Linked DNA regions of Homo sapiens. The protein of the gene in region 2 interacts with the protein of the main gene of each other region in a pairwise test. Each region holds a gene or a part of one and is shown on either strand. Other genes may lie near its edges.

Evidence for each region. The genes of interacting proteins can lie anywhere in the genome.
Region 1: the proteins of MTCP1 (region 2) and AKT2 interact in a two-hybrid assay, tested with the Homo sapiens proteins (one study listed by BioGRID).

What each region holds. Positions count from the first base shown.
Region 1 is NC_000019.10:40,229,790-40,233,356, forward strand, and holds the end of AKT2 (RAC-beta serine/threonine-protein kinase), read right to left. Parts: 3' UTR 528-3,567; downstream 1-527. UniProt on the Homo sapiens protein: Serine/threonine kinase closely related to AKT1 and AKT3. All 3 enzymes, AKT1, AKT2 and AKT3, are collectively known as AKT kinase.
Region 2 is NC_000023.11:155,068,099-155,074,961, reverse strand, and holds the start of MTCP1 (protein p13 MTCP-1), read left to right. Parts: upstream 1-3,825; 5' UTR 3,826-4,268; intron 4,269-6,863. Other genes in the region: BRCC3 (lys-63-specific deubiquitinase BRCC36), read right to left, coding at 1,531-1,588, 2,619-2,635, 3,312-3,434. UniProt on the Homo sapiens protein: Enhances the phosphorylation and activation of AKT1 and AKT2.

The DNA of each region.
Region 1 (3,567 bases), on a different chromosome or scaffold from region 2:
AGTGTTTGCCAGGGACCTTCACTGAAAAGTTACTTTTCCCCCTCTCCACACTGCACTCTTTGGAGGAGTCACTGCAGCCCACGCCTAAGAAGTGGGGGTTCCATAGCCCTCCTTGAAGGCTGTCTACAGAAATTACTTATGATTTTGTGTAGATTTGCATATTCTCCCCATTTTGCCACTTAGCAATAGACTTATTTCACATTTTAGGTGAAAACCCAATATTATGCTATTTATTTTGTTGTTCAAATTCTTTTCAGCTTTGGCCACTGGAAGCTTTCTGTTGGCTCCTGTGTCCCTGTGACTTAAGCATATCAGTGCGTGCTTTCAGGCACTGCAAGATGCCCCAGGCTCATCTTGTACATTTCCTGCCCCAGGCCTGGAATAATCTTAGTACAGCACTATTTTTGAAAGTTTTCTGCAAGTCTGCAATTATTTCAAAATTTAAAGTATCTGAATGGCTACACTTTTTTGGAAAGGTACTGGACATTAAAATCCTGGGATGTAGACAAACAAAAGCACCAGCACAGTACAGATGGATAGCTAGTTTATTACAGGACTGCTGGTAGCACCAAACGAAACCAAGTCAATTCCTGTTAACGGGGCAGCTGAAGCGGTTGAGGGGTCTACCCCATGGAACCCCAGGAAGCAGCTGGAAAGCCTGAGTTCCCCCCATGCAGCAGCTAAAAGGGAATCGCACTGCCGCCCCCGACTCCACACAACCATCAGTGCACGAGGGCAGCCCCCAGAGGCTTCACATTAACTGGAAAAGATTACACAAAAAGAGCAGGAAACTACCAATTTATGATGCCGTGTCCATTTGCAGAGAGGTAATCAGCACCAAAATGAGTACTCAAGGCCCTGCGACCTCGGGTGAATTTCCTTTCTTATACTCCTGCTTTGCTGTCTTTTTTAATAGCATGTATCATGTTTTTTTTTTTTTTATTTTTAGAGACACAGTCTCATTGTCCCAGGCTGCAGTGCAGTGCCGCAATCATAGCTCACTGCAGCCTCAAACTCCTGGGCTCAAGTGATCTTCCCACCTCACCTCAGCCTTCCAAGTTAGCTGGGATTGCAGGCATGCACCACCATGCCCAGCTAATTTTTGTATTTTTTGTAGAGATGAAGGTCTCCCTATGATGCCCAGGCTGGTCTCGAACCCCTGGCCTCAAGAGACCCGCCCGCCTCGGCCTCCCAAATTGCTGGGATTACAGGCATGAGCCACTGTGCCCAGTCACTGTTCTTTATATACAAAAAAGAATGTGTGAAATTTTTAAAATGTACATTGCAAAAGACGATTATTCTACTCAAAATTTATTTGGTAAGATTTTATTAAGACTCTAAGTTCAAACACCCTTCTTGGGAAAAGCTCTACAGGATAACCACACATGCTCAACTACGGGGCCAGCTGCTGCAGCTGTGGGACCCCATCCTGTGGAAGAGGAGAGAGGCACTAAAAAGATGAGGTAGCCAGGCCTGTGCCCACACTACGAGACCTGCATCACCATGGTGTGAGGAGCAGCAACGTGGGTCAACTCGGGGCTGGGACGAGATGGAAGAGTAAAAGGCCTTTCTTCATAGGCCTGCCTATTTTATGACCACCAGGGTAGACTTTTGTAATTAAATTAAGGTCCACATGACTTTAGAAAGACAAACTAAAAAACCCCAACCAAACGAGTCCTAGCTGTAGCTAACTCTGATTTCTGTAAATTGGATCTGACTTTTTCTGCTTACATTCACTTAAAATCTCAAAGACTCAATGGGTGTGAAGTGCTAACACCTTGCGGCAAAATCTCAAATTCATCTGTGCCAGGCCCTCTGCACAGCAGGGCTCAGCAGGGCAGGCCAGGGCTCTGGTCCCTGGTCCCTTGCTGGGGGAGGTGTTCCATCCGGCCAGCGCCCGGCCATGCAGCCACGTGACTCAAGCACGGGAAGTGCAGGGGCCCAGACACATCCAGGCTAAAGGGCAGTGACTAGGGGAGGGCTGACCCCAAGCTGAACAGGGTTCTAACCAAACGCTCAGGAGCTCCCAGGTGACAGCAACCACGCCACCATGAACACACCACTGGGTCTGTACTGGAATTTGGGGGCCTCAAGGCTTCCAGGTGGCAGCATAAACAGGGAGGTGGGGCAGGATAGGAATGCCCCCCTCTGAGGCTCGGCAGCCGGGTGGAATGAACCACTCCCTCTCATTCAGTGACAGCACAGGCACCCTCCTCATTCTGGGCTACCCAGATCTTCCAGCCCTGTCCCTCCACCCCACCTCTCTTAGCCTAAGCAGCACTGAGGGCCTGGAGTGGTCTCTGTCCACCCCACCCCCACATGCGGGGAGCCTTCCCATACCCCTCAGCCCCACAGCACCAGCTCCACCCACCCTCTCCAGCCTGAGCTCCTGCACACACCCCAGCTGCCCTCACCCTGAGCTCAGTGCCCTCCTTGCTGAAGGGAACGGCTAGTACAGGAGGAGCTGGGGCCCAGGGGTCTGACTCCATCACCAAGGCAAAGCCCAGAGTGGTTGGGCTGGCGTGAGTGCAGGCTGGGCCCTGGTCTGAAATGAGTGTCTTTATTGCTTGTACCGTACAAATATGAAGACGAGGAGAAAGGCCAGTAGGGACGGAGAACTGTCAGATAACAACATCGCACACAGAGGAAAAAGACCCTCACCCACCCGAACCAACCCCACCCCTCCCCACCCTGCCATGAACTGTGTAGTACAGGAGATGGGATAGGGAGAGCAAACCCACAAAAGCTAAACTCCAAACACCCAGAGGTGTTGCTACAGGGAGGGGAGGCGTGGGCAGGGCAGCTCATGGATCACAGTGGGGCTCCTCCCACTAGGTCAGCACCCCTCCCCCACAGGATGAAATGCTCGGGCCAGGGATGGGGCCCAAGCCCACACACCATGCACACTGGAGGACACGCTGCCCTCACACAAACACACATGCACACACACCCACGTGTGCCTGCGTCCCGCCGACACACGCAGTCCGAGGCACGCACAGGAGTCCCACAGCACTGACATGGACGTGCACTCATGTTCAACCTTAAGGCTGCAGAACGTGGGGCCCTGGGGAGAGGGAGGGGTGAGGGGGGCCTAGGAGCCTCCCTTTTCAGAGGCCCCCCACCCCAATAGGTACCAGAGATGCCCACCCCCACCCCTCCCTGACCAAGTCCATGGGGCCCAATACTGTCCGGTGTAAGATTGTAACAGCCAAGGCTGGTGGCCCTCCACCCCCGCAGAGGAGAGGGTGAGCCCAGCCCATAGCCCCCAGTGGGGCCAGGCCAGGCCCAGGGTCCAGCGGGAGGTAAGGCCAGCTGGAAGGAAGCCCTAGTAAGGCACGGGGCTGGGAGGCAGGCAGGTTTGGCCCCAAATGTTCCTCCTGCCTCATCCATAGGGTGAGGACAGTTTGGTGGGGAGGAGGCCGGACCAGGAGGCGGCACCCAGCCCGGCCACTCCTGGTTCCCCATGGTACAGATCCTAGGATCTGACTCCATTCACCAGGGAGCAGCCCTAACCCCCAGCCCTGCAGCTCCCAAGGGCCCCTGCCTGCCCCTGGACATTATTGCTTT
Region 2 (6,863 bases):
GGCTCACATGATATTTCTTTTTTTGTGGTTTATTTTTGTTTTGTTTTTCAACTGAATACTCCACTTAAAAAGATTATCACACTGGATTTTTTAAAAAGTATTTACCACTAATAAGAGACACAAGAGACACATTTTAAATATTAGTATACAGAAAGGCTAAAAATAAAAGGATAAAAAATACACTATGCAACACTAAAAAGGCAGCTTAACTAATAAAGTTTAATATCTAATTTAGACAGTACAAACTGACATAAAACTCAAGACGAGGGCATGAAATCTTGAATAATAAAATTACATTATTAAGATTGGAATGTATCTTAGTAACTGATGCCCAGGGTGAATTGTTTCTTTCTCTCTTTCTTGCTTTAGTCAGAGATTTCAGTGCCTAAGAGGAATGAGTAATATTTAATGCATAGACAGAGGAGGAAGAGGAGTCCACAAAGGATTGTGGGAAGGGGGAAACAGGAATAAAGGCAATACAACAAAACCAACAAAAACTCATGAGAGTTTAGAGATTCAAGGAGAAAGATGAAGATAAGCACCAGGAAATAATCCACCGAAGGTAGAATTAGAAACCAGACCTCAGTGGGTTTGACTGGGGAAGGTGAAGGAGTAGTAATTGTAGCCCATTCTTTTAAGAAGTCTGGCTATTAAAGGAAGGATATAAGAGTACTGACTACAGGAAGATACGGGATTAAGAAGTAGCTTTCCTTTCTGAAAATGAGAGTAATTTAAGCATATGTTTATCCTAAAAGAACCAGGTGACAGGGAGAAGACCCAGAAAAGAGACAGAACATTTGATAAACAAGGTCTCTGAAGAAGCTGCAGCTTTGGATAGGAAGAGGACTTATTTCTTTGATATGGGAAGAGATGCAAAGTGATTAAGGTGGAGAAGTTTGTAACTAGTAGTAATAAGTAGATGAAGGTGTGGCCTGATAACTTGGTGGGAGGAGGGGAAGTAATTCATTTTTTTTGTATTTTACAAAAGCATCGGTCTGTGACAGACTGGGGGAAACGTTAACTGGTCCGATACCACGATTAGGTGAGAAGCATTACACTAGACCATCAAGGCTAGAGCATGCCACAAAAGATGGTGTAGGAGTGCAGATAGGAAAAAAGTCAAGGCAGACTAAGAACTATGATGCTATGGTCAGTTTGCCTGTTTAAGAAGAGAGGGCTGCATGAGTAGATGTTGGAATTCGAGATAAAGAGGTAATAGTGATGTGAAAGTATCAAGGATGCCAAAGTATCAAGGAAAGTGGGAGAAGGGCCAGAAAACAGGCAGTGACAGCAAGGAGAGCAGCAAGAGGGTGGTACTGACAGTGATTATTAATCTTGATCAAGTAGAGACAATTTGCTACAAAGAACAGAAAATTAGGTCCCATTCCTAGTGAGTAGATTCTTCATCTGATTTTACTAGAAAGAATATCTCATCCAGCCAGAAACCGCATACTCTGGCTGAGATCACTGGATTACAGAAATCTTTCCCCAACTGCAAGTTTCCATCATGCAAAATTTTAGCACACATACCTTTTCAGCAACTGTGCGCATTTCAGTTCCAGTATATGCAAATTTGGAGTCACTCCTACTGGGAATAAATTAGAAAAAAAAAAAGGAAGTGGGGTTTGGAATATAAAAAGGAATTAAAGCAAAATAACAGGATTAACTGTTTTTGCAATGAAATCTTAGCAGAGACCAAAGAAGAGGAGGGAAACTGAATTGAGGCTAGAGCTGCACTCTATCTGTTAGAAGCAATCTGGGACACATGCACAAGTGGCTGAGTGTATAAAGTTATAATGGACAAAGCTAAATTCCTGGAATCCTGGGAACTAAGGAGGTGGGCTTGAGAAGTATACTATGGTATGATTTGAAGTTTAAATTAAAATGTTACCGAAAGGTTTCACCACGTCAAGTATTGAAGCTACTGGGGATCTCTGAGATCACTGAGGTCCATCAGGAGGAAAGGCAATGTCACTGTCAATTTACGTGAAGGAATGGATCAATGGGGAAATGCCTCTAAACGTATATGCTCTCTGTCACTAAGAAAATTACTGATATCTCACTGGCATTTAAGGGGAGACAGAACATGAAATACACTGAGCAAGGCCAGGTGTGGTGGCTCACGCCTGAAATTCCAGCACTTGGGGAGGTCGAGGTGGGCAGACTGCTTGAGCCAGGAGTTCGAGACCAGCCTGGCCAACATGGTGAAACCCCGTCTGTACAAAAAAAAAAGACAGCCGGGTGTGGTGGCGGGCACCTGTAATCTCAGCTATTCGGGAGTCTGAAGTATGAGAATCGCTTGAACCTGGGAGGCGGAGGTTGCAGTGAGCAGAGATCGCGCCACTGCACTCCAGCCTGGGCGACAGAGTGAGGCTCTGTCTCACCCCTAAAACGCAACAATTATGATAATGCTTATTAAGATGTTTATCCCATATCTCAACTGAATAGGAGGTAAGGCAGAAACCAAAGTTCAAGGTTGTATCATTAAGGGAGCCCCGGAGTGATAATGGTAATTAATTTAAGACACGATCCGGACACAATACTGCCAAAGTCGCCATAATTTTAGGTTAACAATGACTTAGAGATTATAAGATATGAGTAAACAAATACAGTCTTACCTTGTATCATCGTTCAACTAGAGTGGGAAAAAGCAAAAAACATTATTGATCACATTACGTTTGTTTGACATATATGGATGCAGATTATATGACAATTAGGTCATGTGTTCACGCACATGGTATGAAAGACTGGAGAATTACTTTAGACTGTAAACAGCTAAACTGTATTTCCTCATCCTCTTCGGCCCCTCCTCAACACAATGCAGCGGAAACTTTTGCTTCCTTCAAGCCCCGCACCTTCTGTTAGGCTCTTCGATACCCTTCAAATGCTTTGGTTGATATCTCTGCTCCCTAGACAGAAGACTCGAGGCGAGGCAAGGGGCTCTAACTGTGGTCAGCTGCTGCGTCGTAATACCCGGACATCCTCATTATACTCCAGTGTCTTTCTGACCTGCCTTGCAGTTTTGGTCAACCGGGCGAAAAGCGCAGATCTAAAGAGAAGCCCCAGGCTACAGGAGAAAGGGCAAGGCTCCCGGGGCCTGTACAGACCGCCGGGGGCTCGCAGGAGACTAAACAAGTGTCAGGCGGCCAGAAGAAACGGGGCTCCCCGCGACAGAGCTATGTAAAGGGTGTCCAAGGACCTAAATCGAGGATGCCTGTGGCCTCCGCAGCCCTGGGAGCTGCCGGCACCCACCCCGGGGACACACTGGGACTGCTCAGCAGGGTTCCATCCAGGCTAACAGACCTACTCACCTCCCCTATGCACAGCCCCATTACTTCCTCCTTCTCTGTGCTCAGAGCGTGGTTGAGACAAACGAGGAAAGCGTCAGACTCGAGATGAACCGCCTGCACCGCCTGCACCACCTGCACCGCCATCTTGGCCCGACCCTTCTCACGTCCGCCTCGGGCCCACTTGGTCCTGACCAACCGGGTGCTGCGGCGCAGCCTCCCCAGCGCCCAGCGCTGTGCGCTCCGCCCAGGCCTGGCCTTCGGCGCGCGGGTTCCTAGGGGGCGGGGCTTAGGGAGCGGGCGGGGCTGTGGGGGCGGGGCTGTGGGGGCGAGGAGGGGGCAGCGGGCGCGCGGCTGGCGCGCGGGGGCGGGCCTTGGGGCACGGGGGCGGGGCCCGCCCAGCAGCACCTGGGAAACGCCCGCGCGGTTTGGGGCAGGCGTGGCCGTCGGGGCGGAGGGCGGTGGCCGGCCGCGGTCCGGGCGTCAGGCCGGGCGGCGGGGGCGGCAGGGAGGCGGCGCTCTGGGGCCGCAGGCGGACGTACTCTGTGAGCGGCGCCCGGGCGCCTGGGCAGGCGCCTCCCGAGTACCGGCGCCCATTTTGCCCGCCCGCTAAGGAGACCCGTGCGCGGCCTACACGCTTGGGGGACAGCCCTTTAAGACGACATCTCCGCGAACGCCGGCCTCTTGAGCCAGGGGGACGCTCTTTTGAAAGTCAGTCCCAAAACAGTTAAGGTTTTATTTTATTTTGTTTTATTTCCAAGTCACAGCCCCCGAATCTCGTACAACTCTCCCTGGACCACTTCCGGTTGCCGGCCCGCGCCTCATAACTTCGGTTCGAGTGACCTCGGCCCGGGATGCCCCTCGGCTCACCCCGGGCTCACGTCGCGATCCTGGCTTGAGTGGCCCAGGGTGGGAGACCTGGAAGTTTTAGCCTAGCTGTTCTCAAGGCGGATTAATTAGCCCAAGAAACATTATATTCATGTGAGTAACCTTTTGCAGAAACAGTGTTATACTGTATCTGAAAAAGTATCACTCTTAAGCTTGGCTGCTGCTACTTTCTACAAAGGCTTTTAGGTAGCTATTTGTTGGATACAGGGAAGGGGAAATGGAGAACTTCAGTTTTTATTCAAGTTCGGATGTATCACATTAGGTATCCAGAATGCAAGTTTCCTCGGGTCTCCTTGTCTCGATGATATCAGACAGTAAAAATATATGTAAAAGTAATTTTTATTTCGAGGTATGTCAAACGTGCCAAGGATAAAAGTACAGATCTTCCAACTCACAAGTCTAGGAATCACACGTGGATTTTGAAAGCGATTCTAAATCAAAGCACAATATATGCCGTGCCGCCTCCACAGCCCGTCCGTGTTCGTGTCTTTGATTTGGTTTTCTACTTTGTGTAGTTTTGAAGCCAGGCAGGTATGGCAGTACTGGAAAGGGAACATTCCCAAGGTGCTACTTGAAGTGTTGATGCTTTGCTCTTTTCTCCCAAGTCAGTTCCAACCCAAGTCTCCCCACACATAGGGTCCCCATCCAGTGCAACGATCTGTAATGTGCACGCCAGCAGCCTCCGTTTTTACCTAACGATCTGTAAGGATCACATGGCACATCTTTCTATAATTAATTTGATCATGATGAAGGTTGGAAAATTTTCGTGTGCAGTTACATTGGACCTGTCTAAATTTTCTCTTGTTTCAATTTTATATCATATGTTATTTTCAGTTACTGTTTGTGGCTAGTATGCCCCGTCCTCATGGAGCAGGAACGGCTGTTCTTATTATTATGACATTAACATTTGGTGATGGGATATAGTGCCTTTAGGCACTTTCAAGAAGAAAAATACCTTTTGTTTGTTATCGGCGGTAGTCAATCTCATATTCCAGAATGAGGTTCACTAACTTTTCTAATGCTCATGGCTGCCTTTTACAGCTCCAGGCATTTAACTGGAGTAGAACAAAATTATTAACATTTATGGCAAGCTTATTATATGCTAGATACTAAGCATTTATATGCCTGGTACATGTAAACTGCCCCATTTGGAGTCAAGCTCAACAACTTCCCCACTGTGTGACCTTGAGCAAGTTACCTAACTTCTCTGTGCCTTTCTTTTCCTCACCTTTAAGTGGGGATGATAATAATTCTGCCCACCTCATAGCGCCCTATGAAGATTGTGAAAATTAAATGAGTCAATATATGTAAACATATAGGAAATGCTAAATAAAGACTATCATGATTAATATGTTCTTTAATTCTCATTTTACACCTCAGGAAACTGAGGTGGAGAGACGTTAACTTGTCCAAGGTCACAAAGCTAGTAAGTGACAGACTCAGGACTCATACACAGGCCTGGGCCTGTGTTCTTGGTAATTTCACTCATTGTAATTGGACGAGTTTATTAATTGACTTCTAATAAAATAAGTGTATTCAACTGATCAATGTTTAAAAACTGTTCATCAACCTGGCAATTAAAGCAAACTATACTTTTTTAAAAAAGACACAAAAGAATTTATTCTGTAAAGGAAAAATGATAGTTTTACTTAGATTACTACCTAAGGAAGCCCTTCTATCTTATATGTCATCCATTTAAAACCTAATTTACAAAATGCCTTACTAAGAAATTGTCTGTCTTGGCCAGTGTGCTCTCTGGCCCCGAAATCAAGGTGACCCTCATGGGGACAATCTCTTCTAGTGGATGATAAAGTTATGCAGTTATCTAAACATTTTTGGAATTCATTTGTATTTGTAGCTGGCAGTATTCCTTGAGTTGAGTTGCACAAGTTTATATTCCATGTATTGTATTGCACCTTGTACCTAAGTCTATGTTGAGGTTTTAAAAGATTCGTCTTAGTTCGAGAAGTCCTGAATTTTGTAAACAAGTATCATGTGCAAATAAAATGTTCTCTAGTCAAATAAATTTGGGAAATGTTAACATAAAGTTTCTTTACTGCATAACTTGCCAGAACAGTTACTACACTAATGTGCTTTATGACTCTCCAAGATTCCCAAACTTATTTGACCAAGGAAAATGTTGGGAGCAAGTTTTCTAAGAATCACATTTTTCCACTCATAAAACCTGTGATTGTATAGGCTTTGATCTGAATCCCTCTCCCTCAGCCTTTGCATTTCTCTGCTGAGGACTTTGTTCATGCTCATATGGTGACTTCTCTGTCCCTTGATCACTGCAGTTGTCTTTCTCTGGGCCTGCATGCCCTCTGAATGCTAGCACACACAATTCCAGGATACTGTGCTGAGAGGTGGTTCCCAAGCTCATCCCGCTGATGCCCAGCATGTTGACCTTTGGGTCACAGCAGCACATCACACTGCCTTTCTTCTGAGAATATTTTGTAGTGACTCATAGGCCTCTTTGTAGTGACTCAGTAACTCAGACCATCATCTCCAAACTCTTTGCCCTCTATTCCACTGGCATTATTTCCTTTTAATGTCAATATAACCAATGCAATTTTGTTTTCCATTCAAAACAAATTTAAATGTCAACATGTTGGTTGTTGCTAGGACCTATCTATGAAATTGAGATGGTCCTGAAACCCTTAACACATGGTTTCCACTTTTTTAAAA